2 separate regions of the Homo sapiens genome follow, and region 1 is linked to region 2. Evidence: fine-mapped expression QTL. A gene starts in region 2. The other region holds a variant in brackets. All regions are shown on one strand. Distances are from middle to middle.

The links. PIP is the estimated chance that this variant, and not a neighbour inherited with it, causes the effect.
Region 1: its variant is the best candidate, but not a certain one, in a credible set for the expression of IQGAP2 in esophagus muscle (GTEx, PIP 0.68).

Annotation. Positions count from the first base shown.
Region 1 is chr5:76,592,991-76,595,898 of GRCh38, forward strand. All of the region lies in intron 9 of IQGAP2 (IQ motif containing GTPase activating protein 2), which reads left to right. Among named protein-coding and RNA genes, the nearest start is that of F2RL2, 29 kb to the right of the region's middle. The variant G/A (reference allele first, on the strand shown) is at 1,424.
Region 2 is chr5:76,402,198-76,405,105 of GRCh38, forward strand. It overlaps IQGAP2 (IQ motif containing GTPase activating protein 2), which reads left to right and starts at 1,088. Exons shown (of 36, transcript NM_006633.5): 1 at 1,088-1,394. The coding sequence starts at 1,349. RefSeq lists silencers at 770-1,119, 1,290-1,399 and an enhancer at 1,053-1,553.

The DNA of each region.
Region 1 (2,908 bases), 190 kb after region 2:
CCCAACACAACTCTCAATTTGTATACTTGGAAAACTGCCTTATACAATGAAAAATCTACTCAGTGTCAGTGTTGCTCTTAATTATGGTGCAGCATTTGGCAGTTTCCCACTGGGCTTTTTTTGGTGATCTCAGTCCACACAAAGTATCCTGAAGCTAGTTTGATTCTACCTTCCTGTTTCATTACATTCCACATTTTAATTCTGTCACTTTTGGGGCTAATACTGAAGGTCATTTAGTAAAAGATTATAATTTACAGATTGTAGTTGCTTGCCCATGATTATGCGATGATGTTCTATTGGAATTGTAAAAGGTACTATTGACACCACTGCTCTCTGTGACTTCCCAGCCATTAGTCTGTTGTTTGTAAGATTTTTCTTACACTTGTGTAACTTTGGTGCCAGTGAATGGGACTATGGACAGGCCAGATGAAATCTCATGATGGCAGCTTTGAGTCCCACACCCCTGAGCCTCTGTGGAGTCAAGCAGATGAGTTCCTCTTAGTACCTGGCTCAAGTGTCTGATTGTAAAGAACAGCAGACTCAGGTAATTAAAATAAGCGTATGCAGGTTGAGATACATCAATTTTTTTATTAGTCTTTTCTCCCCTCTGGCAAAACCTATTTTTACTTGAGCATCAGAAGAGTCAGTAAGAAATTTCATTTGATGTTTATTTTTCCCTGGTCAATCTAGATAATCCATATATACCCAAAAAACTAATACATGAAAGGCCATTTAGCCTGCTTAATAAAGCATGTGAACTCCCTGCGAAATTAAAATTTGGAGTATCCACTAATTACAACAGTCCTAAACCTTGCCTTCCTTTTAACATCCTCGTTGAGTTTTGAATATTCTTTTTTGCTTGTAACTCTTGCAAAGAAGTGTACACCCACGGTGTTACTAAGAAGTCTGCTCCTAAATTGCTGGAGAGAAATATCCTAAGGGGCTCAAACAGTAATTAAGGAAAGCCCCAGAGGGTTAATGTAAATGTCTAGGAGTTAACAACTGAATGTGTTTGAGAATATGCCTCACATACACATAACTGGGCTGAAAACTCTCAATTGCCTTTATTTTTTTAAGGTAACACCTTAACATTTTAGGGTGCATGTGCCTGTTGTTTTATTCTTGTGAAATCTTGAACATGTTACTGATGATACATGAAGTACAATTTAAAGTTTGTCTTTTTGCTCTATGCGAAAGCTGAGAACTTCGTGATGCTTGACAGAAATGAATTACAGGAGGAAATTAATGTTGCCAGTGAGACATCTGAGGTCCATAAGCCTAGAGAGGAAATGGCTCCATAGCCTTTAACCATCCTTTATTTTTGAAATATTTATAACCATGAAAACAGTTTTCTTTTTCATGTTAAATAAAATGCTTTATATAAATGTTTTAGTTCTTTACTCAGTGCCATAATTTCCTGACC[G/A]CAAATTTAATGCCAAATTGGCTATACTTTTTTTTTCCATTTTTAAGTAAAAGGCATTGGATGTTTTGCACTAATGGTAAAACCGGCTGAAAATATGAAAGCAAGGTTTGATGGCTTTAAATGTGTAGAACATGATTATTCTGAAGTCTTTTTATCTCTCCCCATCTTAAAATTTATAGTCCAGTAGAACTGAAAGTAACCTTAGGAAAAAAACCCTCATTTTGATGACATGACAATGAGACAATTGTACACTTTAAAATACGTAAGAATCAGCTGGGTGCAGTGGCTCACACCTGTAATCCCAGCACTTTGGGAGGCTGAAATGGGTGGATCACGAGGTCAAGCGTTCAAGACCACCCTAGCTAATATAGTGAAACCCTGTCTCTACTAAAAATACAAAAAGTCAGCCAGGCGTGGTGGCGGGCATCTGTAATCCCAGCTACTTGGGAGGCTGAGACAGGAGAATCACTTGAATGTGGGAGGTGGAGGATGCAGTGAGCTGAGATTGCGCCACTACACTCCAGCCTGGATGATAGTGTGAGACTCCATCTCAAAAAAAATTTAAAAAAAAAAAGTAAGAATCATTACTTTGACAAGATTTTCCTCAACCATGTAGGTTATTATATTAAAATGTTAAGGCATCCACATTCATAGCAACCATAGTAATAGCATCAGTGACAATGTTGGTGGTAATGTCAACAGATCTGTTGTTAGAGGCCTCAGCTTTGTTCACATTATAACCCTTTACCTTTCAGGTTCAGCAAATGCATTCCATTCATTGCATGATATTTTCTGTTAAGATCAGAGCTGGACATTTTGCATTTCTTTGCTTTTTTTTTTTTTTTTTTTTTTTTTTTTCCGGACAGGGTCTTATTCTATTGCCCAGTCTGGTGTTAAACTCTTGGGCTCAAGTGATCCTCCTTCCTCAGCCTCCCAAAATGCTAGGATTACAGACAAAAGCTACCACACCCTGCCTGGACATTTCGTTAAATGCAGAGTGTAAAAGAGTGGTTGATCTTACCTTATTTTTTTAGAAGAAATTGTTTATTTAATAGTGTTTTTCAGGCTAGGTGCAGTGACTCATGCCTGTAATCTAGCACTTTGGGAGGCTGAGGTGGGAGGATGACTTCAGGCCAGGAGTTCAAGACCAGCCTGGGCAACAAAGAGAGACTCAGTCTTTACAAAAAAAATTTAAAAATTAGCCGGGTGTGGTGGCACACAACTGTAGCCCCAGATACTGTAGAGACTGAGGTCGGAGGATCTCCAGAGCCCAGGAGGTCGAGACTGCAGTAAGCCAAGATTGCACCACTGCACTCCAGCCTTGGCAACAGAGCAAGACTGTCTCAAAAAAAGAAAGAGAGAGAGAGAGAGAGAGAGAGAGAGAGAAAACAGTGTTTTAAAGACATGATTTTCTGATGTTTGAAATATAGCTGTACAAACCCATATAATAAATTTATCAAAGGTAAAGCAAGATCCTACCTAGAG
Region 2 (2,908 bases):
CTGAGTAGCTTGGGACTGCAGGCGCAACCACCACGCCCGGCTAATACGGCTAATATTATTTTTTCATTTTTTGGAGAGACGGGGTCTCGCTATGTTGCCCAGGCTGGTCTGGAACTCTTGGGCTCAAGGGATCCTTGTGCCTCGGCTTCACAAAGTGCTGGGATTACAGGCGTGAGCCGCCGCGCCCGGCTCTAAATAATTTCTTATCGCCCTCCCTCAGTTTGTTTTTCCTGTTATCGGGTCACCCACACATTCCACAATTGTCAAATAGGTGAGGGCACAGGTACGGAAGCGTCCCGCATTCCCTCCAGATTTTATCACGCTGAGACACAAAGAGAAAAATAGCTCCTGGCGACCGCATGAAAACCCCGATTTCAAAACAGCCACATGCAGTTTAATTTCCTTAAAAGCTTAGCCGGAAAAGGTTTCTGTGGCTTGCGACCCCAGCTGGGCTTGAGAGAAGGCTCTGCACACTGGGGCGGGGGCGGGCACAAGGTGATCGGAGGGAGGGGGATGACTCGCAGTTGTGTTTTGAGTGGTTGCCTTGGGTTATCTTGTTCCTCCAGCACACACACACTCAGTTTCTTGTCATAAGGGGAACCCTGTTATTTTGTAGACAAAAAGTGACAGAAGCAACTTTCGAAGCAAAAAAAAAAAAAAAACAAAAAAAAACAAAACCAAAAAGACGAAGAAGAAGAACAAAAGTCAACGTGAAATCTCCCCAGAGGAAAAGGAACCGCGCTGTTTGTCCCTCAGTAACTGAGCAACACCCCGGACACGAAGGGCTCCCTGTGACTTCTGCGGTTTTTCTTGCACTTCTCCGCGTTGGTTCACTTCCACCCTCGAAACTCTCCAGAAGCGAGAAATAAGGCGGGGTGGCCGCCACCCCCAGGCCACCAGCTGTGCGGGGGCCCCAGCTGCAGGGGGTCCCGGCCCAGCGTCCCTCTCGGCCCCTTCCCTCTCCCCCGGGGGAGAAGGGGCGGGTCCACGCGGCCTGGGCGCTGCGCCCGACACGCGGTAGGGGTCGCTGCGTCTCGGCGCGCGCTCCCACCGCGGTGAATAACGGGGCCTGGCTGGAGGAGAAAGGAAACCTGCTGCGGGAGGCGGCGGCGACCGGCCAGGGAGCGAGGGAGGAGAGTTCACTTTTACTTCAGTGTCAGCGCGCGGCGGCCGTGGCTGGCTCTGGCGAGAGAGCACCGAGGGAGTGGGTCGCAGATCTTCGGGCGGCTAGGGGAAATCGGCGAGAGGCGGGATCCGAGCGCGCCGGCGGGGCGCAGAGCCCGCGAGCCTGGCCAGCGAGGGTAGCCGCGGGGGGCGCGCCCCGGGCGGGCCCCCGGAGACGCGCAGGATGCCACACGAAGAGCTGCCGTCGCTGCAGAGACCCCGCTATGGCTGTAAGTGCGCCGGGCGCGCGGGGTTCCTGCTGGCCTTGGGGAGCTCCCTCCCCGAGGACGGCGTTGGAGAAGCCGAGGGAGCCGGTTGCGCGGCGCAGAGGAAATTGGAAGGCAGCAACTGCGCGGCTGGCAAAGTTGGGAGCTGGAGTTGCAAAGGGCAGTGAATCGCGTCCCCCCGCTCCTCCCGCCCCCCAATTCCTAATATCCAGCTGGCAACCCAGACCCTCCACTCCGCATACCCAAACGGGGTGCGCGGGCAGTGCGGGGATTGCGCTCTGGGACAGACCAGGTTGGGATTTTAGGGGTATCAGGTGAGGAGTCCGCGGAGCTCCGGGTCGCCGCCGGCTTGGGCCAGGGGGTGGCGTAAGGCACCGGATTCTTCCAACCCAGAAGGGGAGGAAAGTTTGTTTGCTGTGGCTACAGGTGGGCACCGCAAGTAGGGCGCCGGCGCACTCTGCTAGTGCAAAGCCGGCTTGACTGGAAGGGCGGGAGTCTCCTCCTGTCCCGCGCCCTCGAACTTCACCTGACCCGCTAGAGCCATTGGCCTCACAGGTGTAAGTCCCTCCCCTCTGAAACCCCCCAACCCCTTTCCCCCCCGCTCCCCTCGCGCGGGAGGATTGCTGTGTGGAGAGGACGCGGCACTAGGCTCCGGGGAATCCGGCGGGAGCCCGCGTGACTTGAACGAGATGGTGTCGATTACCCAGCCAGGGGCTGCCCTCGGAAATAGGTTGCTTTGGCCGATCGTGAGTGGATGGAGCCAGATTAACACCAACCACGTGGCTTCATGTGCAGAGTTCAGAGTCCTAAACATGTGCCAGGAAGCATTTCCTTTAAAACAAACAGAAAGTTGGCCTGCTGTCTCTCCAAGGTGGCCCTGTCAGTGAACCCAAGGCCGAAGACCACAGGTTAATCTTTGCCCAGGCTGGCCTTGGTGGCAGAGGTACCAGGTTTGGGTTAAGGTGGTGATACCTTCAGCAGGGTGTTTTGTTTGTGTGTGTGTGTGGTTTTGGATGGTGCGTAAGGCCACTGACTTGCTTAACTGAAAAAGGGCTCCTCAACTTGTGTAGGTTCTTTCCCCTCCTCCCCGCTGGCGTGTCAAAGATGGGAGGTTATCTTTCCTGTGTTACCCTTGCAGTGAGGGGGAGGCCTGAGGACTACAGCCTCTGTACTCTAATGCATTCAGCAGTTGACTGAGACCCAGCTTTTTGCCTTTTGGTAAACCACACAGACAGCAGAGCCTCTTGGGTTCAAGAGGGAACGCTGTGCTCATTCAGTGTTTGCAGTGCCAACCTCAGGTGGGACCCAGCTTTTTGCCTTTTGGTAAACCACAGATACAGCAGAGCCCGTTGGGTTCAAGGAGGAATGCTGTGCTCATTCAGTGTTTGCAGTGCCAACCTCAGGTTGGTGGAAGTACTTTAATGTGACCAGCTCTCAGAATATATGGTGGCTTCACTGTGTCAAATGATAAGATAACCACAAACTTCTGCAAACTAGGTGAATCTACATGAACAAAT